Regions from separate parts of the Homo sapiens genome. Here all the other regions are reported to be linked to region 2. Evidence: microRNA targets listed by miRTarBase, many of them from high-throughput screens and not tested one by one. Region 2 holds a microRNA gene; each other region holds the end of a gene's coding sequence.

The links. The annotated mature microRNA hsa-miR-4646-5p reads ACUGGGAAGAGGAGCUGAGGGA and lies in region 2 at 1,693-1,714, opposite strand. An mRNA with a match to its seed (bases 2 to 7 or 8) in the 3' UTR can be bound and repressed. Matches are read on the target gene's strand: a 7mer-m8 pairs with bases 2 to 8, a 7mer-A1 pairs with bases 2 to 7 and ends in A, and an 8mer does both.
Region 1: the mRNA of AGO2 is a reported target of hsa-miR-4646-5p. Seed matches in the 3' UTR shown: 7mer-A1 at 3,262-3,268.
Region 3: the mRNA of MYO1C is a reported target of hsa-miR-4646-5p. Seed matches in the 3' UTR shown: 7mer-m8 at 759-765 and 7mer-A1 at 1,842-1,848.
Region 4: the mRNA of BTG2 is a reported target of hsa-miR-4646-5p. Seed matches in the 3' UTR shown: 8mer at 1,995-2,002.
Region 5: the mRNA of EPG5 is a reported target of hsa-miR-4646-5p. The part of its 3' UTR that is shown has no 7-base or 8-base seed match.
Region 6: the mRNA of PHF5A is a reported target of hsa-miR-4646-5p. The part of its 3' UTR that is shown has no 7-base or 8-base seed match.
Region 7: the mRNA of NUP98 is a reported target of hsa-miR-4646-5p. Seed matches in the 3' UTR shown: 7mer-A1 at 1,146-1,152.

The regions. Positions count from the first base shown.
Region 1 is chr8:140,528,623-140,532,675 of GRCh38, forward strand. AGO2 (argonaute RISC catalytic component 2) reads right to left here. Exons shown (of 19, transcript NM_012154.5): 18 at 3,794-3,993; 19 at 1-3,530. The coding sequence ends at 3,422. Among named protein-coding and RNA genes, the nearest start is that of CHRAC1, 19 kb to the left of the region's middle.
Region 2 is chr6:31,699,378-31,703,443 of GRCh38, forward strand. It overlaps MIR4646 (microRNA 4646), which reads right to left and starts at 1,714; the gene lies at 1,652-1,714. It overlaps ABHD16A (abhydrolase domain containing 16A, phospholipase), which reads right to left and starts at 3,947. Exons shown (of 20, transcript NM_021160.3): 1 at 3,773-3,947; 2 at 2,697-2,753; 3 at 1,897-1,963; 4 at 1,565-1,651. The coding sequence starts at 3,904.
Region 3 is chr17:1,462,363-1,466,426 of GRCh38, reverse strand. MYO1C (myosin IC) reads left to right here. Exons shown (of 32, transcript NM_001080779.2): 32 at 675-2,241. The coding sequence ends at 701. Among named protein-coding and RNA genes, the nearest start is that of CRK, 8.2 kb to the right of the region's middle. RefSeq lists enhancers at 2,403-3,222, 3,352-3,431.
Region 4 is chr1:203,307,112-203,311,177 of GRCh38, reverse strand. It overlaps BTG2 (BTG anti-proliferation factor 2), which reads right to left. Exons shown (of 2, transcript NM_006763.3): 2 at 1,576-4,066. The coding sequence ends at 3,740. Among named protein-coding and RNA genes, the nearest start is that of BTG2, 3.6 kb to the right of the region's middle. RefSeq lists enhancers at 2,497-3,439, 3,784-4,023, 3,440-4,066.
Region 5 is chr18:45,848,905-45,852,970 of GRCh38, forward strand. EPG5 (ectopic P-granules 5 autophagy tethering factor) reads right to left here. Exons shown (of 44, transcript NM_020964.3): 44 at 1-3,745. The coding sequence ends at 3,563. Among named protein-coding and RNA genes, the nearest start is that of SIGLEC15, 25 kb to the left of the region's middle.
Region 6 is chr22:41,456,553-41,460,618 of GRCh38, reverse strand. PHF5A (PHD finger protein 5A) reads left to right here. Exons shown (of 4, transcript NM_032758.4): 4 at 132-902. The coding sequence ends at 221. Among named protein-coding and RNA genes, the nearest start is that of PHF5A, 10 kb to the left of the region's middle.
Region 7 is chr11:3,672,538-3,676,603 of GRCh38, reverse strand. NUP98 (nucleoporin 98 and 96 precursor) reads left to right here. Exons shown (of 33, transcript NM_016320.5): 32 at 1-95; 33 at 228-1,585. The coding sequence ends at 445. Among named protein-coding and RNA genes, the nearest start is that of CHRNA10, 3.2 kb to the right of the region's middle.

The DNA of each region.
Region 1 (4,053 bases), not on the chromosome of region 2:
GCAACATCATCTGGAAAAGAAAAGGGAGACCCTGATGTGCAATCAAAAGGCTGCATGTAAAGACTGCTTGAACCAGAGAAAACCAAAACTTAAGGAAAACGATCCCTTTCTAAAAGTACAGCTATGCCCAGTTTTACAAAATTTATCCAAACCAGGAAAATCTGAGCTTAGGACACACAAAACAACAGGACGGTGGCTTTGCGTCACCGAAGGGCTCACACACGAGGGCAGCTTTCCACCGCTCCCCTGGTGTTCGTTAATTGCGTCGTCATTACAGCAAGAACTTGTCAAATGTGATAGGGTAGTGGTAAAAGGATGGGAGTACATCAATGTTTTTAAAAAGTGAACATGTAAAAACACACCAGGAAGAGTCCCAGTACAGAAATCGAATTGGGAGACCTCTTTTAAAGAGATGAGATAAAATCCCAGTTTTTCTTTTAAACAAACCCAGACTTCTACACATAATTTTCACATTCAGTTTGCTTAAAGCAAGGCACACCTTACTTAACAGTGGGATGGGGACAAAGCCAGCGAGTGGGCACCCCTCAAATCTTGACAGGCCCAGGGGGGCAGCAGTGGACAGGGAAGGGTGGCAAGGCCCCAGGCACCCACATGATCAGACGATCAGATGCCGGGGAAGGGCCACCTCTGGCTTTCACGTGAACAGGGCTGGGACTTACCCTACTGTACTTTGAGGTTTTTACACTGTCTCAAAATTTATCCTAATAATGCAGGGATTGGTAAAAATTTGAGAAAACAATTGTTTACCTGAGAAATTGTAACTACAGCCATTTAAACTCTGAATCATCAGACATGTACAAAGGTGTGCAGCTGACCCAGCTGGAGATGTTTGGTCTATTAATGTTTTTAGTATTAAAAGTTTTATAAAACAAGCATAGGGCTATAAAAAAGTACCCTTTTCGAAGTACTCTGGCCCACTAAAAATGAAAGTTTTCCTTCAAAATGATTAAAAAAAACAAAAATTGTAGTCCTACTTTTCTGCCAGCCCAGTCTGTCTCAGGCATCTGCTCAGGAAGCACCTCCTCCCTGCTGGGTGCCACCAGAGCTGGGTCCTCAGACCCCAGGGAGCCCAGGGCTGCAGGCCATCGCTTAGACACAGATGCCCTGGCCATCCCTGAAGTACCGCACGCAGGAGGTGGCAGCAGGCCCACAAATCTGCATGTTAAACAAGAACCGCCATCCCCCAGACAGCCTGACGCAGGTGGAAGAAACACACCTTTGAGACACATGGTTCCAGATGATTGTAAAAATGGCTGGAAACTAATCTAATTTCAGATTTGAAAAGTTATTAGTCACAAGATTCCCTCCTTAGCTTGAATGCATCCATTAATTTAAGCTACGAGCATGTCTGTATCCTTCTGAAAACAGGAGAAAGTGCCACTTGCCACTAAAACAAAAGGAACTGCCATTTCTTAGAGTGGGAGCTTCTGTCATTTAAAAAGATTAAAAAAAAATACAGCCAGAAGAGACTAATGCCATTAATAAGACACTCACACACAGGGACACACGCATGCACACACACACACACCACTCTGAGTACACATCTTCACAAATAATAGTCATCCCTTTGTCATTGCCGCCAATATCCAGGCGAGGTATCGGGAGACCCCCGACCTGCGGCTTGCTGCCCCTCCTGCTGCCTCCAAAGCAGCTGAGCACAAAGGTGGGGGGGGGGGTGCCGCTGAGCAGGAGGCAGCTCCTTTGGCACCCCACCCCACCACAGTGCCGAGGTAAGTGTCGCGCAGGGCCGGGGAGGGAACAGCAGCAGGAAGAGGGGACCTACGGAGCGCACAGCAGCACTAGGGGAGGCTCGCCTCCTTCCTGACGCCTCTACACGGAACATGGATTTGAGTCTTACTAAAACTGTGTACAGAGACAAAAAGCCCACTCAGCACAAACAGAGTTGTCTGTTGTTAGCCTTCAAAATCGTCCGTGGTGTCACTCTTAGTGCAACAGTTTCTAGATTGGCAAACCCAAGTCTGGGGCCCCAAATGCAAACCCCAGAAGAACGGCCCATGCCCTCTGCTGGCCCTGCTATCCTTGGGCCTCCCAGGGCCAGGCAAGCTCCTTCGCTGTGACCGACGGCCTCACGCCCAGCAGAGCCACCACCAACAGCTTTCTACGAATCTCAGTGCATAGATCTATGGAAGTCATCTGACAAAAGAGCACACGGAGAGGAGTGAGTCCCCACACATCAATGTTTCCCAGCAATGCAAGAATAAATAATTTCCACTTGTGCTTCATCAGCTGAGTGAGTGACACACGGGGATGAGGCGGCAGGGAGGGTGGCGAGCGGCGCGGAGGGCACATCCGTCCCTCCCATGGGTACACGCTGCACAGTCTCCACGGGGGAAGCGGGTTGCTGTCACATTAAGTCAATTGCATATTCCTGTCCTTAAGCACTAAGAACTGAGAGGCGGTCCCATCTCCAGGCTCCAAAACACTCTTGATATGCCAAACAGATCACAGAAGCACCCCATAGTCAATAAAATGAAAAAACAGCATCTATCTATCACATTAATACTGCAAACCAGATATATATATTCTTCTCTTACATTAAAGACATAACAGTGAAAAAGGATTGTACTGTATTTATCACCACAGACCCGTATTCTTTAAAAACTTTGGAAAATAAATGTCACAGTCCTATAGGACAAATCTGATGATTAGACTGTCAGTATATTGTCTTTTTTCTTTTTTTAAATACATTTTTTATTAAAATGGCACTTGTCTGCCAACCTCTCTGGACCTGGAAATGCTGTAAACACACGGGGCCCACCTTCTGCCACTGCTCCTTAGTTCAGGCCGGGTGAAGGGCGGTGCTGGCAGAACACGGCACCTGCGGACGCCTCTGCATGGCCACCGGCCCTCAGTCGAGGAACTTGGGTGAGCCACGCCAGGGGCACACGAGCATCGCCTGGAAATCAACTTTAGTGACAACATCAGAATGTTCAAGGCTTTAAAACCACACTTGTGTTTTGTGTTGCTTTCACTCTCAGAAGATTCACAGCTAGTTTGAGCCCATCAATTTCATAGAGAATCATGTATTAAAAACAAGTAAATTGAATGACCAAATAAATTAAAAATGTTTTAAAGCCCTGAGTTCATAGACTGGTTTTAGGAGATTTTTAGGACACACGGGACTCTGTTTTAATAAGCAGCTTATAGATTTTAGCAAACCATATTTCCTATGACATTGGGTTCTCATACAGGTCTGCAGTTCAAAATCCAAGTTTGAAATCTGGGACGGAAGGCATTCTGGAAAACGGAGAATCTAATAAAATCAATGACGTCTCATGTTCGATGCTGGCTGTCACGGAAGGGCTGGCCATCTGTTGGTCTGAGTGTAGCTGGTCTCGTGAATCCCACTCGGTACACAATCGCTAAACACTAAAACATGTCAAGCAAAGTACATGGTGCGCAGAGTGTCTTGGTGAACCTGGACCGCCTTGGCCAGTGCTTGGTGGTCTCGCCCGTTACTCTGCCCAGAGGTATGGCTTCCTTCAGCACTGCAGGGATGAGAGAGAGAGAGAATGAGAATGTGCAGCCTTAATGCACGATGAGGCAGTGCGTCGATCACTAAGTCGGGATGGCATGGCGGGAACCTGGGAGAGGGAAGAGTCCCACGCTGACGGCCGTGCCATTAACAGGCCTTCTGGGGTGCCGGCTCCAGCCGCTGGGGCCCTGCCCCTTCCCCTTCCAGAAAAGCAGCTGCCAATACCCGTGGCAAAAACCACCCCTGCTGTGACCTCCAGCCAGGCATGCCACTCACCTGTCATGTTCCTTATCCACCAGGTGGTACCTGGCCCGGAAGGCCACCAGGTGAGCGTAGTATGCTGGCGCTGGGATGGACACGGAGCGTGTGCAGCGCACGTAGGTGTGACACAGCTGGTAGGTTAGGATCTGCAGCTCATCAGAGGAGAAACGATTGTCGTCCCAGAGGACGTGATAGTGCGAAGGCCTGCTTGTCCCCTAAAGCAGATCAGAAGATTAGACAGTTGGACTCGCATAAAATCTTTAAAAGGATACTGT
Region 2 (4,066 bases):
CAGCCTGGGGGACAGAGCGAGACTCCGTCTCAAAAAAAAAAAAAAAAAAAAAGAAAACCATGCCCTTGTTGTCTTCGGTGTTCTACCTCAAACATGCACATCCCTTTTGAATTTTATATAAATGAAAACATACTGCATACATTATTTTGTGGTTAGCTTCTTCTATTTAACACAACATTTGAGAAATTCATCTGCATTGCTTTTGTTTATCTGGAGACAGAGTCTCGCTCTGTCACCCAGACTGGAGTGCAGTGGTGCTATCTTGGCTCACTGCAACCTCTGCCTCCCAGGTTCAAGCAGTTCTCATGCCTTAGCCTCCCAAGCAGTTAAGACTATAGGCATGTGCCACCATGCCCAGTTAATTTTTTGTATTTTATTTTTTCTGAGATGGAGCCTTGCTCTGTTGCCCAGGATGCAGTACAGTAGCGCAATCTTGGCTCACTGCAACCTCTGCCTCTTGGATTCAAGCAATTCTACTGCCTCAGCCTCCCGAATAGCTGGGATTACAGGTGCTCACCACCATACCTGGCTAATTTTTTTTTGTATGTTTAGTAGAGACGGGGTTTCACCATGTTGGACAGACTGGTCTTGAACTCCTGACCTCTGGTGATCTGCCTGCTTCAGCCTACCAAACTGCTAGGATTACAGGCATGAGCCACTGCACCTGGCTTCATCTGCGTTGTTGAGCGTAGCTACAGTTTGTTCATTTGCATTGCTATATAGTGTTCTCTTGCATGGCTATTGCATGGAACTTTTTTTTTTTTTTGAGACGGAGTCTTGCTCTGTTGCCCAGGATGGAGTGCAGTAGCGCAATCTCGTCTCACTGCAACCTTTGCCTCCCAGGTTCAAGCTATTCTCCTGCCTCAGCCTCCTAAGTAGCTGGGATTACAGGCACGTGCCACCATGCCCAGCTAATTTTTGTATTTTTGGTAGAGACGGGGTTTTACCATGTTGGTCAGGCTGGTCTCAAATTCCTGACCTCGTGATCCACTGGCCTCTGCCTCCCAAAGTGCTGGGATTACAGGCATGAGCCACCACACCCGGCCACACAGAACATATTTTATCCATCCTACTATTTGTAGCCACTGGAGTTGTTTCCAGCTTAGGATTATTACAAACAATGTTGTATGCTGTATTCTTGTACATCTATATTGTTTATACATGTGCAGGAGTTTTCCTAGTATGTATACATATATAGAATTGTTGTAGGGTATATGCATCTTTTCTAGATAAAAGCAGCCAGGCATAGTGGCTCACATCTATAATCCCAGTACTTCGGGAGGCTGAGGTGGGAGGATCACTTTGAGTTCAGGAGTTTGAGACCAGCCTGGACAACATGGTGAGACCCTATCTCTTAAAAAAAAAAAAGCAAACCTTTTTGTTACTTTTCAGTTATTTTTTCATATTTATAACCCAAGTCTTTTAAGGAAAAGATCATGCCTTAAACCATTCTCAATGATTCCCTCTCGGAGGCCCATCACTAAAATGTATTTGCACAAGGTACTTAATTTTTAACCAGTGACAGTGACAGATAAGATTCAAACCAGGTTTCCTCTCCACCTACCTCGGAGGCAGGCCACACCTGCCAGAAGTAGCAGCAATGTCCCAGCATAGTGAGAAAACGGCACCACTTTGGACAAACTCAAGTAACCTGGGAAGGGAGAGGGACAATGTGAGACCCTCTCCGCAATGTCCCTCAGCTCCTCTTCCCAGTTCAGCCCCAACCTCCACCCCACACTCCCTGTTTGGAACAGCCATACCCTAAGAGGAAGAAGATGCCTGATGGAAGAGGGAAGCCAAGCCATCTTCACAGGTCCCCTCTCCTCTTTAGGGAGCTGGCTCATCTGCCAACAACCTGCCCATTTGCTACCCCACCACCTTTGAAACCACACTGACCTTTCCTGTACAAGTAGAAGAAGGCGAAGGGAGAGGAGTAATAAGAGATGGACCAGAATACTGAAGCCTGCAGCAGAGAGACAGGGACAGGCAATCAATACACACACACACACACACCTGCCATTCCAGGCATATACTATACACTCTGAGCAAGATGGACAACCTGAGGGATATCATATCATATTTGGTGTATGACACCATGAATACAGTAGGTGCTCAGTATTTGTTGAAAAGTAGTGTGTCAATGTAATGGAGGCTGGGAAAATTTGGTACAGGCTCTATTTTCTTCCTCTGGAATTATGGAAGAATTATGTCTTCCATCTCCAGACATAATTCCATCACATTTAAAGGCAGTCTCTCTGTCTACTCAAGTTAATCAAGCCTTTTCAATTGGCCCTGCTCAGGACAGCCCCTGGCCTGGTCCCCAAGAGATGCGCAAACGTCACCACAGGAACTGTGCCAGAAAGAACAGCTGTCCCTGCAGCCAAAGAGGTTAGTTGCCAGGGAGGACAGGTCACTGGGGAACTGCAGGACTTAGCACCTGCAGATGGTCCCAAGAGTAAACATGTTTTCCTTACGGCTCAGGTTGCCCCCAGAGAAAGCAGTGCTACATACCAAAGGGGAGTGCCAAGTATGCACATTTAGAGTGTGCCTGTGTGTCTGTGTTGGAGAGGTCTGCTGCAGAGCCCAGGGCATCCCCCAACCCCAGGGCACTGTTGCTCCCAAGTTAGGGAGGGCTAAGTTCAAGAGGACAGGTGGGTCTGAAAGATGCAGAGTCCCAGATGCCAGGGTAGACATACCAGTGCCAGGATGCTGTCAGCATGTTTCTCCAGGGCACGGGGCTGATAGTACGTATCCTGCCAAAACAGATGGCCTCCTTAAGGACCCTGCCCACTGGCAGGTCCTTTCCCTTCCCTTTCAGAAGCCCTGCTGTGTGTCCTCTGGTTCTAGTCTCGTTGACTATCTCTCTTGAAACATCCCTGGCCCCCACAGAAACTCCTCTTCCTCACCCTCACTCTGAACCTAATTTCCCACCCCTGACCATGGGAACAAACACAGGGAGCTGGATTTGGAAGCAAAAGTGAAAGCAGCATTGGACGATTTTTGCTCCTTTTCCACAGCCTAGTTTCAAATGGATTGCAGGCGCGTGCATGTGGGGAGAAGGGTTAGTTTGAGAAGAAAGAAAAGACACCTAGACAATCTAAGAAGGAAAGAAAAGCATCAGAAATAAGAGTAGTTGACTAAGAAGAGAATGTGGGTAGGAGCGGGCAGTTTGTAGGAGACAGTAACACAATGAGACAACTGATAAAAAGGAAGAGAATATTTAGAACAGCCTACCACCACCCGCCAGCTCTCCAGAATACAATGACTCGGGTCTCCAGGCTAGGTTGGGCGGGGGTTGAGGGGAGGACCGACGGATACAGGATCTGTAAAAGTCATTCTGAAATTCAAGGCGAGGGTAAAGGGAAGATAAAAACAGAGCCGGGGGAGGCATGAAGAGGCACTGAAGAAGAGGAAACTGGGAGTCTGACAGCAAAATTCAACGGCTCCCCAGTCCGCGCAGGGTCTCTTCCCGGGACTCAAGACTCAACTGGGACCGGCACGAACCACGACACACAGGGTCGGGGGGACGCGGAGAGGAAAGAACAAAGAGTGGCAGTCGGAATGAGAAAGCGGTAAAGAGCGAAAAAGAAAGGAGGCGGCCAGTCCGTAGGCGTGACTTTAACTCAGGAAGCACACAGAGCGCAGATTTTGCGGATAACTGGCTTGACAAGCAGGCTCCCCTTATTTCCCATTATGGGCACTTCTGGGGAGCAAAAGGCCGTAAAGGGTTTGGACTGTACCACGTTCTTCGGTGGGGAGGAACTCGACTCACCCAGGAGCTGGAATGGGGGGCAGTGACTGCCGTTGGCGTCTCAGGGACGCTGGCCGGGGCCCTTTCAGAGTCCCTCTCCCGGTAGATTTTGTAGAGCCGGGGGCCTAGGACGCAGCTCAGCAGCTTCGCCATGGCCCCGGCTCGGGCCGCTGCTCTTCCAGCAGCAGGTCCCCCTGCCGGCCCCGCCCTCCCTGCCTCTGAGGTGTTGTGTGCCCTTGACGTCAGCCCGTACCGGCTCCGCCTCCGGGCGAGTTGCGACATTTTCAGTGCTTCCTGAGAAGAGTTTCGCGCAGT
Region 3 (4,064 bases), not on the chromosome of region 2:
CCCGGGAGGTGGAGGTTGCGGTGAGCCGAGATTGCGCCATTACACTCTACCCTGGGCAACAAGAGCAAAATTCCATCTCAGAATTTGTATACAAAAAAGTTAGCCTGGTGTGGTGGCGTATGCCTGTAGTCCCAGTTGCTCAGAAGCCTGAGATGAGAGGATTGCTTGAGCCCAGGAGGTTGAGGCTGCAATGAGACCCAAGATCTCACCACTGCACTCCAGCCTGGGTGACAAAATGAGACCCTGTCTCAAAAAAAAAAAAAAAAAAAAAAAGGCAGCACGGCAATGCAGGGAAGATACATAGGCTGATTGGGGGTGCCAGGAGGGAGGACAGGCTCACAGGCTCACGCTGGCCAGGGCGGTGGGCATTCCTATGGGAGTCAGGTCTGAGTCTCCAGGATGGAGACCACTAGGCCCCCACCACTCCTGCCTGCATCGAACCCATGAATCTGAGCGCTGGGGCTGGGTGCGGCGGCTCACGCCTGTAATCCCAACTCTTAGGGAAGCAGAGGTGGGAGGACAGCTTGAGCCCAGGAGTCCAAGACCAGCCTGGACAATATAGCGAGACCCCATTCTCCATAAAAAGGAAAAAACAAGGACGAAAAGAAAAGTCTGAGTACCGGGGCCCCCGTCTGCTCCCCTCACCACTTGGCCGTCTCTCTCCGCCCCCACAGGTCGCCCCACGGCTGAATTCTCGGTGATAAAGGCGCCCACTGGACCCTCCCAACGCCCAATGCTTTGCTTTTCTCCTCCTCCCCTTCCCAGTTACCAAAGACTCGAACTTCCAGACAGGGACCCAGGGACACCCCGAAGCCCACCTGCAATCTCCCACCTCCTGCCCATCCCTCTCTTGAGGGAGCAGCAGGGGCCAGGAGCTACCCCAGGAGTGGGCCAGGCCGGGCCACAGCAATAGGAAAGCCAGGGCCAGAGCGAGCCATGCCAGCCCTACTGCCGATGCCAAATATTTGAGAGAAGGGAACTTTTGCTGAGGTTTTCTCTGAGGTTTTTTTGATGCTTTATAGGAAACTATTTTTTAAAAAAAGCCATTTCCCACCCAAGGACACAGTGGATGTGTTTTCCCTGACTCCAGCAGGGCAAGGAATGTAGCCGAGAGGTTGTGTGGGCTGGGCTCTGGTGCCCTCTTCCCTGGCCAGGACACCTCTCCTCCTGATTCCCTTGGCACCTTGTCTTTCTGTCTGTTTACCTGTCTCCCTGCCTGCCCATCTGCATCTTTTGCAGCCCACTCTGACTTCCATCTGGGGGCTGAGACCACCCTTGCCTGCCCCCTTCTTTCTGCCTTAAGAATGTCCTTTTAGGCTGGGCATGGTGGCTCACGCCTGTAACCCCAGCACTTTGGGAGGCGGAGACGGGCAGATAACCTGAGGTCAGGATTTCGAGACCAACCTGACCTACATGGAGAAACTCCGCCTCTAGTAAAAATACAAAATTAGCCGGGCATGGTGGTGCACGCCTCTAATCCCAGCTACTCGGGAGGCTGAGGCAGGAGAATCACTTGAACCCGGGAAGTGGAGGTTGCAGTGAGCCAAGAGTACACCACTGCACTCCAGCCTGGGCAACAGAGCGAGACTCCGTCTTAAAAAAAAAAAAAAAGAACGCCCTTTTACTGTCCTCATCATCCCAGTTTGAGGCAGTGCTGGAGTGGGGAAGGCCGTCTTAGACCATAGAGGTTGGAAGACGCTGAGAGATCATCCAGCCCAGCCCCTTGATGTTACAGAGCAGAAGACAGATGCCCAAACAGGAGAAGGCACTTGCCCACGGTCATACGGCAGGTTGCCACAAAACCAAGATGGCAGCCCTTCCTCAGCGTGCCTCACTGCCACTCCCAGAGCCAGGGAGCCCCATAAAACCCACATCATGTCTTAAGAGTATATCTGGCTCCTTGACCAGCAATCGGCCCTGGGAGCCACCAGGTGGGAAAAGCGCCTCTGCCAGAGTCCAGGCCTTGGGATGACAGACAGCTTGCCCGCACACTCGGGCCCCACTCAAGGATGTAGGGCCTTTTCTGGCCCCTGACCCCTCCCTGGCATGGGAGCGTGGGGACGGGGCTGGCCTTGGGAGGAGCGGCAGGGGCATCACCTCCTTCTGCTGCTTCTCCCTGCTCCTACCCTCAAGGGCCTGGGGGCTGCCCAGCTGCCTCTATGCCCTTCTGGGGGTCTCAGCCCACTGCTGACACTTCTGCAATCCAGAGAAACACTAAATAAAGCAATACGTGTTTGCCAATGTGGTCTCCTTATGAATATTAGGAAACGAAGAGGGCCCCGGAAGGCAACCAAGGGCCTCGTGTTGCAGGTTTTTCTCGAGACAGTCTCGTTCTTGTCACCCAGGCTGGAGTGTAGTGGTGTGATCTTGGCTCACTGCGACCTCCACCTCCCAGGTTCAAGTGATTCTCCTGCCTCAACCTCCTGAGTAGCTGGGACTACATCATGCGCCACCACGCCTGGCTAATTTTTGTATTTTTAGTAGAGATTGGGTTTCACCGTGTTGGCCAGGCTGGTCTCGAACTCCTGACCTTGGGTGATGCCTCCCACCTCGGCCTCCCAAAGTGCTGGGGTGACAGGCATGAGCCACCGTGCCCGGACACCTCTCGTTCAAATTCTGTTGCAAGTGACAAACCCAGTCCAAACTGGCTTGGGCCAAAAAAAGGATATTTATAAGCATTAGCACCTTAGTCCCAGAGTAAGGCTACTTCCAGGTGCTCACACACTGTCAGGAATGTGTCTGGAACCATCGCCTGGCTGAACCTTCCTCTACAGTGGCTTCTTTCCCAAGCAGATTCTCACCTGGAGGTGGGGTGGCAGCAACAGCCACCCACAGCTCCAGGCTTTCATTCTGTCAGTTCAGCATTGGAGGCAGAAAGAGGAAGTGCCTCTTTCCCAAAATGTGGAAGTCTCAGAGCGGATTCTCAGTGCAGCACCTTGAATGAGGCATCCACCCTGACCCAATCACTGTAGCCAGGGAGAGGAATAGATTCTGATTGGTCAGGCCTGGATCGAGTGCCTGCCCCTGGAGACAGAGCTACCAGGGGCACACCGGAACCCACACCGGAAACCACAGAACCAAGAGTGGGAGGAGATGACTCGCCAAAATGAAATCAGTGTCGCCTCCACAAGAAAGAGAATGAGTGGGCCGGGCGCGGTGGCTCACGCCTGTAGTCCCAGCACTTTGGGAGGCTGAGGCAGGTGGATCACCTGAGGTCAGGAGTTCAAGACCAGCCTGGCCAACACGGTGAAACCCCATCTCTACTAAAAATACAAAAATTAGCCAGGCAGGGTGGCGTGTGCCTGTAATCCCAGCTACTCGGAAGGCTGAGGCAGGAGAATCCCTTGAACCCCGGAGGCGAAGGTTACAGTGAGCCGAGATTATGCCACTGCCCTCCAGCCTGGGCGACAGAGCAAAAAAAAAAAAGAAAGTGCTTCAAGCTGCAACCACGGAGCTCGTCGTCAGCAGATGGCTGTGAGTTTTTCCAAGAGGGCGGCGCGCTGTGGGTGGAGGGAACGGTGCATGTGGAGCTTAGAGGCAAGAACAGGTTTGGCCCGGGGTCAGGCCAGCTGCCTGAGGAGCTTAGATTTGAAACCTGGGGCAGAGATTCTCAAACAAGGAGATACCACGCAACGTGGTGTTTTGGGCTTGACACGATCCTGTACGCACACCTACATTTTGACACCTCTCTCCATGATTAATTTTCCCGAGGAAAAATGAAACCACAATTATTCGTCCACTTTATCAGCAGTAACGATGCCTCCAAGAAGCTGATAGATAAGATAGGTATTAAGTGCAATTACATGCTTTATAACTGTGTCGACATTCCTTTCTCTAGCAAACCAGAATGCACGCGAGAATGACATCACAGACATTACCCAGACGTCCGCCTTTTTTTGTTTGTTTGTTTGTTTTTTTGTGACAGAGTCTGTCGCCCAGGCTGGAGTGCAATGGCACGATCTCAAAGTGGTCACTCCAAAGTGGTGGGATGACAGGCGTGAGCCACCGTGCCCAGCCTACTCTGACCTTTTGAGAGGTAACCAGGACTGGTTTGTGCCCTCAGC
Region 4 (4,066 bases), not on the chromosome of region 2:
TCATGGAGGTAAGAAATGAAGTTGGGGGAGTTGTCACTGTATATGAAGCAACATGTGTAAAGTTTAGTTTAAATACAGGTCACCGCCAGCTGCGGTGGCTCACACCTGTAATCCCAGCACTTTGGGAGGCCGAGGAGGGTGGATCACCTCAGGTCAGGAGTTCGAGACCATCCTGGCTAACATGGTGAAACCCCGTCTCTACTAAAAGTACAAAAATTAGCCAGGCATGGTGGCAGGCATCTGTAATCCCAGCTACTCCAGAGGCTGAGGCAGGAGAATCACTTGAACCCGGAAGGCGGAGGTTGCAGTGAGCCAAGATCGTACTACTGCACTCCAGCCTGGACGACAAGAGCGAGTGAGACTACGTCTCAAAAAAGAAAAGAAAAGAAATAAATAAATAAACAAATAAATACAGCTCACCTACAGCCAAGAAAAAACTAGACCAGGCTGGGAATGTACTTGCCCTCAGTGGGAAACTCTGGGCTTGTGTCAAAAATCTCATGGAAAGAACTCAAAAGTCAGGGAAGATAAAAACTGTTATTTCCTTGCATGTAACCAAAGGGAGTTACAAATTGGTAACAAACTTTTGGCTCTCACTCCAGTGTTTGCTGTCAGAAGTAGCTGCTCTCTAGCTAACCTGTAGCATTGGCATTCAGCTCCAGTGCATAGATCCTGAGGCCTAGCTGCTCTTGTCTAACAAGACAAGTATGGTGGATAGCAAATGACAGCCCCAGAGATGACAAGAGCACCTTTTCTGGGAATTGCCAACAATCCTGCCTTAGCCTGGGAAGGAGTTCATTACCCGCTGCTTACCAAACCCTGGTCTGTGAGACAGGCTGTGTCTCAAGGATTTTTAATAAGTTCAGTGCCTAGCACTTACTGACAATACATGCTTGCTAAATGAATAACTGACTGAATGAATGAATGAATGAAATGAACGACTATCAAAAACAAGATGCATAAGATGGAGATCTGGCTAGACTAGGGAATGTTCAGACTAGAACCCTGTTACTTCTAGCATCTTCACAGGGAAATTAGAATCCTCATTAAAGGTGGAAGTAGGTTGGGCGCGGTGGCTCACGCCTGTAATCCCAGCACTTTCGGAGGCAGAGGCAGGGGGATCACTTGAACTTAGGAGTTTGAGACCAGCCTGGACAACATGGCAAAACCCCGTCCCTACAAAAAATACAAAAATCAGCTGGGCCTGATGGCACATGCCTGCAATCTCAGCTACTCAAGAGGCAGAGGTGGGAGAATTATTTGAGCCCAGGAGGCAGAGGTTGCAATGAGCTGAGATTGCACCACTGCACTCCAGCCTGAGTGACAAAACTGTCTCAAAACAAACAAACAAACAAACAAAACGGAGGGAAGTAAGGAGCTACTTTCCAGGAAAGAGGGGATGCTTGGAAATGGCCCAGCCATACAACCAGATTTTTCTTTTATACCACCCACATGCTATAGATTGTCTGAGTGCAAGTGAGGAGAAATACTATTAAACACAAAGAAAGGATTTGGATCTGAAAGGGAAACACAAATGTACAACGTGAGGATTTTAACTTCTCTACACCACACAAGTTTATCCTACTACATTTTTATTAAAGTAACAAAAAGGTGTACATTTGTCCATAAGCTGTACATTCTTCCATATAAAAACACTATCATACAATTAGTAACCTTTGTCTTTTCTGTCAGAATAGCTTACAAACATACTACTACTATTTATTTTTACTTAATAGGAGAGACAGGCCTGCTCAACAGTCCAGCTCAGGGGTTTTGTTGTTTTTAAAGTGAACATCATAAAGAAGAGAAGAGAGACAAGATTAAGCATGAGACCATGAGGCTGCTTCTAAAAAGGCAGGGACCTGTTTGCAGACAAGATGCAAGAACACAGCCTGCAGTGATTCACAGCTTTGTTTCAACCCACAAACCAGAAAATTAGCTCTTGGGTCTGTGGGCCCAAAGTGAACTTTAAAGCAATAAAGACTGGAAGCAGGTCTGGGAAGGCAATACAAAATGTGGAGAGTTGAAAAGGAGGCAGAGCTGGCAGGAATGGGTAGGGAGAGTGTTTGGTAAATAGCACCTTTGAGTCAAAATTGAGCAGTTTAGAAATCCAGGAAAGGGGACTGGCTGTGGGGAGGAGAACCTGGGGGTAGAGGAAGTGGGGTGAAGATTCCTCACTAAGGGGCAACAGCAGGAGGGTGGCCATCCTGGCCAAATGCCCTAGCCCTGTCCTTCTTAAGGTGATTCGGTTTGGGAAACTCGAGGTCTTTTGAGGACCCCTCATCAATGTCACTGAGAAATTGAAGGAAGGGAGTTTCTTCCCAGTGTAGCTTTCCACTTTTCTCCAACCCACAACAGTATATATTGCACAAGTCTACGACAAATTTGGATTGTACTGAGACAGACAGCAACCTTTCCCACAGGTGCTCTGAGCACCAGGGAGAAAAAACAGTGCCCAAGGTTTGGCTTTTATTTAGTGTCGGCCCTACAAGAATACCAAGTAGTCTTGCAGAACATGGGGCACTCTCCCATTCAGCCAAGGAATACATGCAAGGCTGACTAGCCAGCCATCATCCCAAGGAGAGCAGGAGAGATGGTTCCCTAAGCCCACCAGGGCATCAGGAGGTTCTGATAGCCAGTTTTCCTCCAGACCCTCCTGGGACCCAGGGGGCATATTGCACAGTGACTGAGAACTCTTGTCCTAGAAAATACGGTAGCTCTATGACCCGACCAGAAGGGAAGGGGGAGGGGAGGGTTAGAGGAGAGTTGTGCTTTTGAAAAGAAGGCAGTAATAAAGGACCTGGAGTTCCCTGTAGCTTTTGAGCCACCTCTCAAAGGGATCATGGCAGCAGCATCAAGACTTTCATGTGGTTCCAAAAGGAAGAGTTTTGGCCAAAAAACATCCCCAGTGGATACTCTTTGGGTCCCAAAATTTCATTGCAAATCACCCCCAAATTATTTGCCACACATACACACAAAGCAGCACTAGCAAAGCAAAGGTTTTGTGCAGAGTTCCCTTCCATCCTAACCCCAATAACCTCCAGTTCCCTCCTCCCCCCCCTCAGAAAACCCAAAGCTTTAGATTCCTGGCTGGAAAGCAACATCTACAGGCCCCTGAGGGTAGAATTAGAAACAAGTCATGATTTCAAGAAAAGCAGCTTAGGACAGTAGGAATCAGGAGAGGCCTTTTCACTCTCTGCCCAGGACCTCATTAGAAAAATAAAAGAAAAGATAACATAGTATTGTTTAAGTCCAGGCATGAATGCCCCTGAGTAATAGAGGAGCCAGGGATGCAGGTGTCTGGCTGGGGGAGACAGAGAGCTCTGAACTTGGCCTCTCTTCCTCCCCCAGGGCAAATCCCGACCTCTCTGTTCACAGTTGCTAACCTTGCTTGCTCCCTCTCACATCTTCCTGGGGTGCTAGCCAAACGTCTCCCACTTCTCCTTGGCTAGGTCTACCCCCTAACAGCTCCCCCTCCTATAGGCAGACACTGGCTCACAGACTCAAGCACGCAACAGTTCTCTCCAAAGGCACCTGGGGAGGCCACTTCCAAGCAGCTCCCTTGAAGGATTTTTTTTCTTAAAAAAAACTTTTGGTTTCTTTTCCTCCTTTCTTAAAAAAAAATAATATATATAAATAGCTCTTCATTTAAAAATACAGTTCCCCAGGTTGAGGTATGTGGTGGCCTGTTGTCACGGCAGCATGAGCACGGCGGCGCCCAGGGCGGGGGCGGAAGGGCCTAGCTGGAGACTGCCATCACGTAGTTCTTGGAGGGGCTGCTCCGGCCCAGCAGCACTTGGTTCTTGCAGGTGAGGAGCCCACAGGAGGCGGCCAGTGGGGCCTCCTCGTACAAGACGCAGATGGAGCCGTCCTCCCCAATGCGGTAGGACACCTCATAGGGGTCCACCCACAGGGTCAGCTCGCTGGGCAGCAGCTGGTGCAGCTGGGGCTGGCTGAGTCCGATCTGGCTGGCCACCCTGCTGATGATGGGGTCCATCTTGTGGTTGATGCGAATGCAGCGGTAGCCGGAGCCCTTGGACGGCTTTTCGGGAAACCAGTGGTGTTT
Region 5 (4,066 bases), not on the chromosome of region 2:
GTGAAACCCTGTCTCTACTAAAAAATACAAAAATTAGCCGGGCGTGGTGGCATGCACCTGTAGTCCTGGCTCCTTGGGAGGCTGAGGCAGAATAGCTTGAACCCAGGAGGCGGAGGTTGCAGTGAGCCGAGACCATGCCATTGCACTCCAGCCTGGGTGACAGATGAGACTCGTCTCAAAAAAAAAAAAAAAAAAAAGACATTGGGGGATTTAGCTTGGATTTAGCCTAAGAGGTGAGGGGTGGGGTGGAAGTGGTGTTAGACATGTGATGAAAACTGAAAATATCTAAAGGTCTGCCTCAAGGAGGGGCAAGTGAACAGCCCCAGCCTGAACTGCTCTGGACAGAACCACGACCAATAGGCAACGTAGAAACATCTTGGTTCAATAGAAAGCAGAACTACAGAGCCTGCGGATGGCAGCCTAGGCCTGCCCATCACAGGCTGGACCACCAGGCACTGGACAGGGGCAGAGGAGAGGCAGGAGGATCCCTGCAGAGTGAGAGGGGCACTAGATGAACGTGAATGACCCTTCTGACTGTAAAAGTCTACGATTCCAGGACATTTGCTTCCTGCTCCAGAAGAAAGAATTTCAGGAATAAAAACTCAGTGAAAAAGTATATATCACCTTCATTTGAAAGGAACGAGGACATGAACACTCTTGGCTTGTATGACATGTACACACTGATTTTGATGATGAACTGAGAGGAACCAGGAGGCCGTCACTTGGTTGAAAGGAAGTTAGGCTGGTCTATGGGTTTTCATTTTCTGGACTAGGCTTTCCCCAACCTCAAAGAAGTGAGAGACGCAGGCACACAACCCCAGTGGGGCAGAGGCATGCGATGTCTGAGCCAACAAAGGATGGTGAGACTGAGAAATGAGTCACGCCTTGGAGCTGAGGTCCCGAGTGTGCAGGAAGGAGCTTTGGAAACATGTACAGGTGGGTCCCGAATCCACTGCTACTGTCATGCTATGTAGACAGTTGTGTAGACACATCTGGCAGGACCTCCCTCCCTCTATGTCTGGTGTGTTCCAGCATTCTGCCCTTCACTTGTTCTATTAATAGGCAGTGGGACAACATGATTCCGGGATGCAGCCTGCCTCTGCAACCCACCTGTGCACTGCAGCATGGGGAGTGATGGAGAGGGAGAGAGATGTTTTTCATGGCAACCAGAATCCTGCCTCCTCCTGCTCCCAGGAAGCTGTTAGACATCTTTATTTGGTCCCGATGCCACTGTTGGCCACCCTGTGGTGAAGTCTGGAGCCTGCAGCCGTTCGCCCTCCACGCTGCTCAGTCCACAGGGCCTTGGTCTTGCTTGATTCCCGTCTTGATGTGCGGCACCCATCACTGATTCTGAAACCACAGCCCCGTGCTCTCTGGAGGCCAACAATTTTTTCAAGCCAAGGCTCATTACCCCTGCAAGCCAACAGGCGGGCTGGTCTCTCTGCCGCCCTTCTTTCCCAGGAGGCTACAGCAGCATGGCCATGTCTGAACTAGCTCAGTGTCTTTATAGCACGTTCCTAGCCCAGAGTTTCCCATAGACACCTAGGAGTTGAGTCAACCTTCCAAGGTTAAGCAAGAAAGAGTTAAAGAGGAAGCGCTTTCACTGACCATCTCTGATTATTAATGAAGTTCAATGTCAAATAAATTAAATGACATCAGGCATAAAAACCTACAGCAACTTTAACAGCTGAAACACTTTACAAGATAGTGTGATATCCCTATAATTTGGTTTTTAAACAGTTACAACCAAAGATAAATGATTTTATTTTTTATAATTTTTACAGACCAAAAAACATTATACAGATTAATCATAATTTTCTTTAAAATGTGCATACTGTCACTCAAAAATTTCACATCCTAGGATATCAGTAATTATATCCTCCTCAAAGAAAACACAAAATATTTCCAAACAAAAATCGCTGTTGCCAGATCAGACTATTAAATTGTCCACAGCTTCTCAAATTTTCTTATACAGAGAACAAGATGATTAATTTTGAAAACGGAGAGAAGCAAAAATAAGAAAAGCTGAGACAGATCCCTCTGAGACGGACATTTTGTGGCCTGTAAAACTCAAGAGACTAAACAGGGATGTTCTTTATCAGAGCTGCAAAGCGTGTCTTTAAGGCAGAATCGTTCTGTCCAAGTAAAGAAATTCAAAGTAAAGAAAAGCTCCTACCAACTTCCCAATTTTGGGGGAAGCATTCCAAAAGGACATTTGAGGAGAGATTAGCACTCTGTTAACTATATTCCTATACCCCTATAAACATTCTTGGTGGCTGTTTAGACATTTTTAGGTAAATATTCTCAGGCTACAGACTACCCATACACAAAGACATATTAAGCCAGCTATGCAGGCAAAATCCATCTAGAGCTGATAGAATGAGGAACGTGGGAACAGAAGTCAAACTGCTCATTCCCAGGAGAAATAACATGAGCAAGAAGATGGCCACAGAACAAGGCAAAGTTACACACAGGCTTTGGTAATGAATGAACTGTCAACAACAGAAGGCACGTGGCTATGGAAAAAAAGCCAAATTTCAGTAGATCTCCCGACCTGACCCAGTTTCCACAGACAAGTGTTTCAGCAGGTCCATTGGCTTCATCTGAGTTTGAAGTTAAAAAACAAGCAGGGAACAGAGAATCAGGTCTTCAGTCTCCCTCAGTCTCTGTCTCCTGACACTGAGCCTTTCAGATATCGAACATGGTGTCTATCAAAGGGTGCAAACTTAGGTGTCGACAGGGGCAAGTGATGTGAATGAGGCTAGGGTCAGGGCCCGAGGGAATGCACAGACTCTCCCGACTAGAGAGAGGCAGCCCTGTCTGCACTCCTCACCAAGTGGACCAAACAAAACATCTGTGCAAAACATGCTCCTCCCAGACTGCCAGCTTGCCATCCTGATTCAGACAGGCAGCTTCTCCATGAGGATACACGGCTGGATGGAAATTGACTTGTCATCATCTCTACTGCCCACTATAATCACGATCAAGTGGTCGTATTTTACACATGACCCACTTTAACTAACTCGGCATTTTTATCTCCCTTCTGAGAAAAACAATACTTTAAAACTATTGTATTTGTCCACATTTGAGAAATGCAGAAATTTTTCAAAATTGACTTCTTTACTTTGGAGGAACACAAATGGGGTTTAAAAGTAAGGGTACTGAGTGACTTCCAAGGTTGTCAGATCTGGAACATTTACATAAAACAGAGACAGAAGTGGAAACATACAAAGAACTCCATCTGGAGGTCTTGTGAGATGACTGGGACATTCGGCAACTGTGAGTGGCTCTGCACCCAAGTGGAACTTAGTAAGTTTCTCTTGTGGATAAATATAAAAACTTAAAGAGTCCCCAGAAGGTCTTAAGAGCTAAGAAAACACACACACACACACACACACACCCCAAAATTATCTAATATCTAACGCCTCCCAACTTGCATCTCAGTCAACTACACATTGGCCAAACTGAGCTCTACAGTGCAATTGAGCAAAGTTACTTGTGCAACAGCAAAGTTAAATGTAAACATAAACAGCAATGGGTTTTTCAAGAGCCTCAGTGTTAACTATCGTATGTGGTCCAAATAATGCACTTCTGGATACAGACAGTTAACGAGAAGAGCCAAGAAGCTTTTCCCATCTTGAAGGCAATGGCCAGGATGCCTTATAAATTGGGTGGCTTGCAATATTTGATCCTGGTATTCAACATACTGCTTACTTGATGCCATGGATTCAAGAGCATTCAGAGCCTAAAAGACACGGAAGATGAGAGGGTTAACTCCATAGAGGCACATAATGTGACTGCCAGAGGTACAGCACACCCATTATCACTGTGTACTTCAACTGTGAGCCTTGTGGGAAGGAGGCCTACAGAACTGAGGCCAGGAGTCCGGAAGGCAGGCATTGATTAACTTAACCACAACCAGAAGGAGGCCAGCAGCCCAAGCCTCTGTGGCCTTTGCAGCATCCCACACCCAGCCTTCCCTGTTTCTGTTCTGTGCCATTTCCCAACCTTGCCTTACCAAGAGCCACTGCTGTGGCAGGCTGCTCTTGTTGCTGGGCGCCTCACC
Region 6 (4,066 bases), not on the chromosome of region 2:
CTCCTGCCTCGGCCTTCGAGTAGTAGCTGGGACTAAAGGCACATGCTACCACACTGGGCTTAAATTTTTTATCTTAAGTCACTCTTGGTTCAGGCTCAAAGACTTAACAACTTCTCTGTTCTGTTTTCCAGAGAGATGGCTGCCCAAAGATTGTCAATCTGGGGAGCTCTAAGACAGACCTCTTCTATGAACGCAAAAAATACGGCTTCAAGAAGAGGTGATTGGTGGGTGGCCCCTTCCTCCCCCCAACATCAGTCTGCTGCAGCTGCCAGAAAACATGCCTACTACTACCAGCAGAAAGGGAGCAGAGCCCAGAGCATCACCAGGAGTGCCTGCTAGTGTACTGGCAGCTTGCCACCCCCTCCTCTCCCTTCACCCAGACACGTGGTAGGGATGGAAAAGGATTCTTCACAGAGCACTCTGGCACACCATATCGGAGAAAACTTGATAGATTAGTTAATGGTTTTTCTTGAATTCGAGAAGCAAAGATCTGTTCTCCATATTGGTATGTTCTCCCTCAACCAAGATCTTCTAAAAAGAAATAATATTTTAGTCTTCTGCTTGAGGAACTGACTGTGAAGCGACGCCCAGTGAAAAACATGTTCTTGCAGCAGCTCTGGTGGCAGCTGTCCTTGAGGAACCTTTGGTGTGTGGTGGGAAGCTATCAGAACAAGAAATGTAGGCATTTCCCGTTTTTTTTGGGGGGGGGGTGGGGGGGCAGGGCTCTGCCCTCTTGAAAGGCATTTACTTGTTTAACACTTGTCCAGCTACAGTGGGGTACAGTAGCTGGCTATTCACAGGCATCATCATAGCCCACTAGTCTCATATTATTTTCCTTTTGAGAAATTGGAAACTCTTTCTGTTGCTATTATATTAATAAAGTTGGTGTTTATTTTCTGGTAGTCACCTTCCCCATTTAACTTTAACTCTAGGAATTTATTTTAGTCACCCAGGAATTTGTGATTCAAAACAGAGGTAGTGGGATTGGTTAAGTACTTTGTCCTCTTATTACCACTGGAAGGAATTCAAAACCACCCATACCTTTCATTATAGATAGATCAAAGTCATCTTTAGAAACGTACTATTTTTTCCTTCCTGTCCAACTTTAATTTTGAACTGAAGAGATAGCTTCCAGTTATGGTGGAGGCTGGGCACAGTAGCCCATGCCTGTAATCCCAGCACTTTGGGAGGCTCAGGCAGGCGGATCTTGAGCCCAGGAGTTCAAGACCGGCCTGGGCAACATGGCAAAAACCCATCTCTATGAAAAATATGAAAACTAGTCAGGTATAGTGGCATGCACCTGTAGTTTAGTCCCAGCTACTCAGAAGGCTGAGATGGGAGGATCCCTTGAGCCTTGGAGATTGAGGCTGCAGTGAACAGTGATCCCGCCACTGCACACCAGCCTGGGTGACAGAGCAAGACTGCCTCAAAAAAAAAAAAAAAAGATGGGCTGGGCGCGGTGGCTCACACCTGTAATCCTAGCACTTTGGGAGGCCAAGGCAGGCGGATCACTTGAGCCCAGGAGTTCGAGATCAGGCTGGCCAACATGGCAAAACTCCGTCACTGCTAAAAATACAAAAATTAACCAGGCATGGTGGCACTGTGCGCCTGTAGTCCCAGCTACTCGGGACGCTGAGACAGGAGAATTGCTTGAACCTAGGAGGCAGAGGTTGCAGTGAGCCGAGATCGTGCCATTGCACTCCAGCCTGGGCAGCAAGAGTGAAACTCCATCTCACACACACACAAAAAAAGGTTCCAGTATAACCCAGAGGATGCACAAAGGAAGGGTTCTAGGCCTAGCTTGGAGGTACCACAGGAAGGCAGGGGAAGGCCATGGCCATAGGACTACAGCACTTTCCGGGCGCTTTTGGCCACCCCTTTCTCTGCACTGCAGCCATAGGCTCCTTTTCAGTTCCACAACTGCTGCTTTCCTTTTGGCTTCTGCTTTGGGTTTATTTTTAACATGTTGATCCCTCTAGAATGCTTGTGCCCCCCTCCCTTTTACTCAGCTAACCCCTACTCCCTTCTGACCTTAGCCAAATATTTCCTCAAAGATGCCTCTCCGGACCCTTAATCTAAGTTCCCCTTGTACTCCCACTTAGCATCCTATGTGGTTTTTTGGTTTGGTTGGTTGGTTTTGAGACGGCATCTCTGTCACCCAGGCTGGAGTGCAGTGGCACGATCTCAGCTCACTGCAACCTCTACTTCCCAGACTCAGCAATCCTCCCACCTCAGGCTCTGGAATAGCTGGGACTACAGGCATGCACCACCCTGCCCAGCTAGTTTTTTGTTTTTGTTTTCGAGATGGAATTTTGCACTGTTGCCCTGGCTGGAGTGCAGTGGCGCAATCTCCGCTCACTGCAACCTCCACCTCCCAGATTCAAGTGATTCTCCTGCCTCAGCCTCCCTAGTAGCTGGGATTACAGATGCACGCCACCACACCCAGCTAATTTTTTGTATTTTTAGTAGAGATGGGGTTTCACTGTGTTGGCCAGGCTGGTCTTGAACTGACCTCGTGATCCGCCCACCTTGGCCTCCCAAAGTACTGGGATTACAGGCGTGAGCCACCAAGCCTGGCCTGTTTTTTGTATTTTTTATAGAGACAAGGTCTCGCTGTGTTGCCCAGACTGGTCTCAAGCTCCTGGATTCAAGTTACCCTCCTGCCTCAGCCTCCCAAAGTGCTGTGAATACAGGTGTGAGCCACCACACCCAACCCTATGTGTTTTCTTAAAGCATTTGGTGATTAGTGAAAGTAACCTACGACCGTGTCTACAAGAGCAGGAAGCAAGTTTGTTTTGCCCAGTAGGTAGCAGGTAGGTGTTCAGTATTGAATGAATGCTTGAAGTCAAGGAAACTGGATAATAAACTGGACTTTGATATGTCAGAACCTACAGGCAAAGGGTGCAGTAGGCAAATAAGGGCATTTGTTGGGGGGGGCATCAACTTGAGCAAAGACAGTCGTGAACAGGGTGATATGTATTGATTCGGATATGGTCTCACTTTGTCCCCCAACCTGGAGTGCAGTGTCATGAACACGGCTCATTGCAGCCTCGACCCCCTGGGCTCAAACAATCCTCCCAACTCAGCCTCCTGAGTAGCTGGGAGGTGTGAACCAGCATGCCCAGCTTTTTTTTTTTTTTTTTTTTTTTTTTTTTTTTTTTTTTTGTAGAGACAGGGTTTCACCATATTGGCCAGACTGGTCTTGAACTCCTGAGGTCAAGCGATCTGCCTGCCTTGGCTTCCAAAGTTAGGATAATAGGCATGAGCCACCACCCCCAGCCTAGGGCGATGTGTGTAGGGAGCTCTGAGCAATTCTAATGCATCAGTGAGGTGATTGCTATGGTTTGAATGTTTGTCCCCTCTAAAACTCATGTTGAAACTTGATTCCCAATGTGGCAGTATTCAGAAGTGGGACCTTCAAGAAATGATTGGGTCATGAAGGCTCTGCCCGCATGAGGGGATTCATCCTTTCACTTTTTTTTTTTTTTTTTTTTTTTTGAGCCGGCGTCTCTGTCACCCATGCTGGAGTGCAGTGGCATGATCTCAGCTCACTGCAACCTCCACCTCCCAGGTTCAAGCAATTCCCCTGCCTCAGCCTCTTGAGTAGCTGGAACTACAGGCACGTGCCACCATGCCCAGCTAATTTTTGTGTTCACCACCATGCCTGGTTAATTTTTGTAATTTTATTAGTGACAGGGTTTCACCATATTAGCCAGGCTGGTCTTGAACTCCTGACCTCAAACGATCCACTCACTTCGGCCTCCCAAAGAGCTGGGATTGCAGGCATGAGCCAACGCACCCAGCCCATCCTTTCACTGTTAATGGATTAATGGGTTATCATATAAATGGGACCGATAGCCCAAAAATAGCTGTTTGGTGGTGGTGGTGGTTGTTTTTGAGACAGACTCTCACTCCATCGCCCAGGCTGGAGTGCAGTGGCGCGAACTCAGCTCACTGCAAGCTCCACCTCCCGGGTTCACGCCATTCTCCTGCCTCAGCCTCCTGAGTAGCTGGGACTACAGGCGCTCGCCATCACGCCCGGCTAAATTTTTGTGTATTTTTTTAG
Region 7 (4,066 bases), not on the chromosome of region 2:
TGACCTGGAGCAGTTACACATCAAAGTGACTTCACTGTGCAGTCGGATAGAGCAGATTCAGTGTTACAGTGCTAAAGATCGCCTGGCTCAGTCAGGTAAGCCTCTAACCTCCTCACTCTTTCTGCCTTCTTGCTTCCTGTTTTTATGATTATTACACCCCACCCTCAGTGCCTACCACCCTTCTCCAGACCCCATGCTCAGTGCTTGACTCTAGTTTTTCTCTCTAGACATGGCCAAACGTGTAGCCAACCTGCTGCGCGTGGTGCTGAGTCTGCATCATCCTCCTGATAGAACCTCCGACTCAACACCAGACCCTCAGCGAGTCCCTTTGCGCCTCTTGGCTCCCCACATTGGCCGGCTTCCCATGCCTGAGGACTATGCCATGGACGAACTGCGCAGCCTTACCCAGTCCTATCTGCGAGAACTGGCTGTTGGGAGCCTGTGAGCCCCAGGCACTTTGCATCACAGTCACATGCCCATTCACACCACACAGAGGTTCCCTGCCTTGTTTGGATTGGCACTGTTTGCCATTCTCTGGGTTGGCTGTGGCATCTACCCTCCCTCCCTGCTGCCAGAAGCAGCATCCTCCACTTGTTCAGGGCTTTTCTTAATACTGAACGTAGCATAAGGGCTTCTGGAACCCAGAAGAGGAGACAGTTTACCATCCTCAAGATCATTCAGTGTTTTTCCTTTAAAAAAATGGTCAATAAAGCTCCTTTGGCAGAATCCCCCAAAGAACCAGGGTATTCTTTTTCCATCCCTAGCCATTCTGGATCTTGTGACCCTCCATGCCAACCAGCTTCCCTACTCCTACCCTGGCCCTTTTATACTAGGACTCCTTAGGAGGAGTGAGACAGGTGATAATGGATCCTTAACAGATGAACTATCCACAGAAGGAAGAGGGATCCGTCTCTTAAGTAATTGGTTAGTTAACACTGAATTTTGGAGGCAAAGGAGGGTTGGCCTGAGTTAGGAAACAAAATGGGATCTTTCTGACACACTTAGGGCAGAAGTGAATGCCTGTCACGGAGGGATTGATCTTCAGGGCTGTTTTTGTTCCTGCCTTTAGAGTTCCATGAACACCATACCTTTGCTACTACTATGTGCAGGAACCCTTGGTCACATGTGACATGTCTGTGGGAAGCTCCCAGAGTTTGGTTTGGTCCCTGGTTTTCAGTCTTGCTGAGACTCTGTCTGGATTTGCCTGCAGAGTTTGGATAAAAAATGGCAGGTTGGGTAACCCTCCCTGTTCATCCCATGTTAGCTCCAAAGCATTTCCCACCCTCCATCTACCCCTTCCAGAAGCAAAAACAAACCATGACTGAGGCAGGCATGGAGTTGGGCGTTAGGGGCAGGCAGAGGGCCTTTGCTACACTGCTGACAGCTATAGGGAGCCCCAGGTAATGGCATGAGATAGCTGGTGTTAGGGCTATCTCAGGCAATATGGCCACACCTGGGTCTTTATGCATGAAGATAATGTAAAGGTTTTTATTAAAAAATATATATATGTATAAATAAATGATCTAGATATTTTCCTCTTTTTCTGAAGCTACTTTCTTAAAAAATAAATAAAATGTTTATAGCATTCCTGGTATTGGCTTTCCCTTTGTATTTTTGAGCCTTCTTACCCTGAGGATCTTTATGGTGGCCTTGTTTGATTTAGCCTGTTTTTGAATTTGCCTTCTAAATGGAGACAGGCCATGGGCTAAAGAGAACAATTGGGTGCTAAACTGAAAGATAGATTAGCCCAAAGGCTAGATTTATAAGGGGAAATTTAGGGGCAAGGGAGTTGATTATTGATTAATACTGATTGCTGTACATATATTTATGCACATAGATTCCCGGGTCTCAAATTGCCCAATAGAATATACCATTCAAAGCCTCCTCGCTCTTCTACTATAGTGGTTTTGTTTTTAAACCCTGAGTGACGCTTCACCTTTCTAAATCAGATTCCCTTTTGTAAAGGGGATAATGATTGCTGATGTTACTTCACACAGGGCTATTTTCAAGAGGAATCAATTGAGTAGCATGAGTACTATTCCAGATCTTATTTTGATCTGTCAAGCTGAAGATGTGAGCAAATTCCAATTAAGATTAGACCAAAGACTTCTGAGACTTTCAGGAATTCAGGGATGAGAAAGCAGAGTGGGTCAGCTCTGTTGTCTGGAACTTCCATTTAACTTAGATGCCTCAGGATAGGGGTTACTCAGCTGGAATCCCCTCCACTACTGACTCACTATGTGAACCTGAGTGAGTCACAAAACATAGTTGGACTTCCAGCAAAGAACACCTGACCTGGTTTCCTTACCAGAGGAATGTTTCAGAAAGTGAGTATGCTATAGAAATGGTTAGCTCTTAGCAGTGTTCGGAATTGTGGGCCAGGAGTGGTGGCTCACACCTGTAATCCCAGCACTTTGGGAGACCAAGGTGGGAGGATCGTTTGAGGCCAGGAGTTCAAGACCACCCCAGGCTACATGACAAGACTCTGTCTCTAAAAAAAAATAAAATTAGTTGGGCATGGTGGTGTGTGTGCATAGTCCCAGCTACTCAAGAGGCCTAAGCAAGAGGATCGCTTGAGCCTAGGAGCTGAAGGCTGCAGCGAGCCATGATTGTGCCACTGCACTCCAGCCTGGGCAACAGAGCAAGAAAAAAAAGGTTCTCAATCAAAGGTTTATCATAGAAGCCATGTTGTGCATAAAAGAGAATATCAACTTCCAGTTCAAGATAAGGGTGATGAACAATCTCTTCTTTTTTTTTTTTTTTTTTGAGACAGAGTCTCGCTCTGTCCCCCAGGCTGGAGTGCAGTGGGGCACGATCTGCAAGCTCCACCTCCCGGGTTCATGCCATTCTCCTTCCTCAGCCTCCCAAGTAGCTAGGACCACAGGCACCCGCCACCATGCCCGACTAATTTTTTTTTGTATTTTCAGTAGAGACGGGGTTTCACCGTGTTAGCCAGGATGGTCTCGATCTCCTGACCTCGTGATAAGCCTGCCTTGGCCTCCCAAAGTGCTGGGATTACAGACGTGAGCCACCGCGCCAGGCCTGAACAATCTCTTCCACATCCCAAAATCCCGTTGAAATAGTAAAAAATGTTTTAATTTCAAAAAAAATTCTCAAAAACATAAAACAGGAACCAGTTACCTCAACATTCGATAGATCTGTGGAATCTACAACATTCAAATAACTTATTTTCTCAACAGAACCCAAAGTTAACAGAGGTCTGGAGAATTAAATATTGGAATAATTAAGCAAAGGCCTGCAGAGTATCTGCTCTTTTTAGATGTTTCATCTTTAGCTCAGTTTTGTTAATTTGTATTTCCAGAAAATTGTTCCAGATTTTTTGTTATTCAAATAACCAGTCCTTAGACGTATTAATCAATTTTACTGGAGTTCTGTATAATCTTAATTTCTGCTTTAAATGTTCATTTCTTAGGCTTTCCTAAGGATTTGTTAAACCTTGTATTGGTTGGGCACGATGGCTCACGCCTGTAATCCCAGCACCTCGGGAGGCTGAGGAGGGAGAATCCCTTGAGCCCAGGAGTTTAAGACCAGCCTAGGCAACATAGGGAGACCTTGTCTCTTAAAAAATGAACAAAAATTAGCTGGGTGGTGTGCACCTTTAGTTCCAGCTATTCAGGAGGCTGAGGTGGCAGGATGGCTGTAGGGTATTTTGGTAGTTGTTCTTTAACAAGTTAAGGACAGTTCCCCTCTACTAGCTTGAATAAGTGAATGTTGGATTTCAATTTGAAATGATGTGAAACGCTTGTGTGTTAGGAAGGTGGTTGGAGATAAGCAGAGTACCTGGGAGAGGGGACGGGTGGAGAAAGTGCAGGGAATCACTGGCATATCCACGATGCCCAAAGTCATGGCTATGGATGTGATTGCCAGGGAAGTATGTGCTGCTGTTGGTCAGGCAACTGGTCAGCTTGAACAAAAATAATCAAAACTCTGTGCATGATAAATACCTGTGACCTGAGGATAGCCTGGCTACCTTACTGGGACCACAGTGTAAATATTGTTGATGACCTGCTGTACCTTAGGCACCGTGCTAGACAGTGCCTTGCAC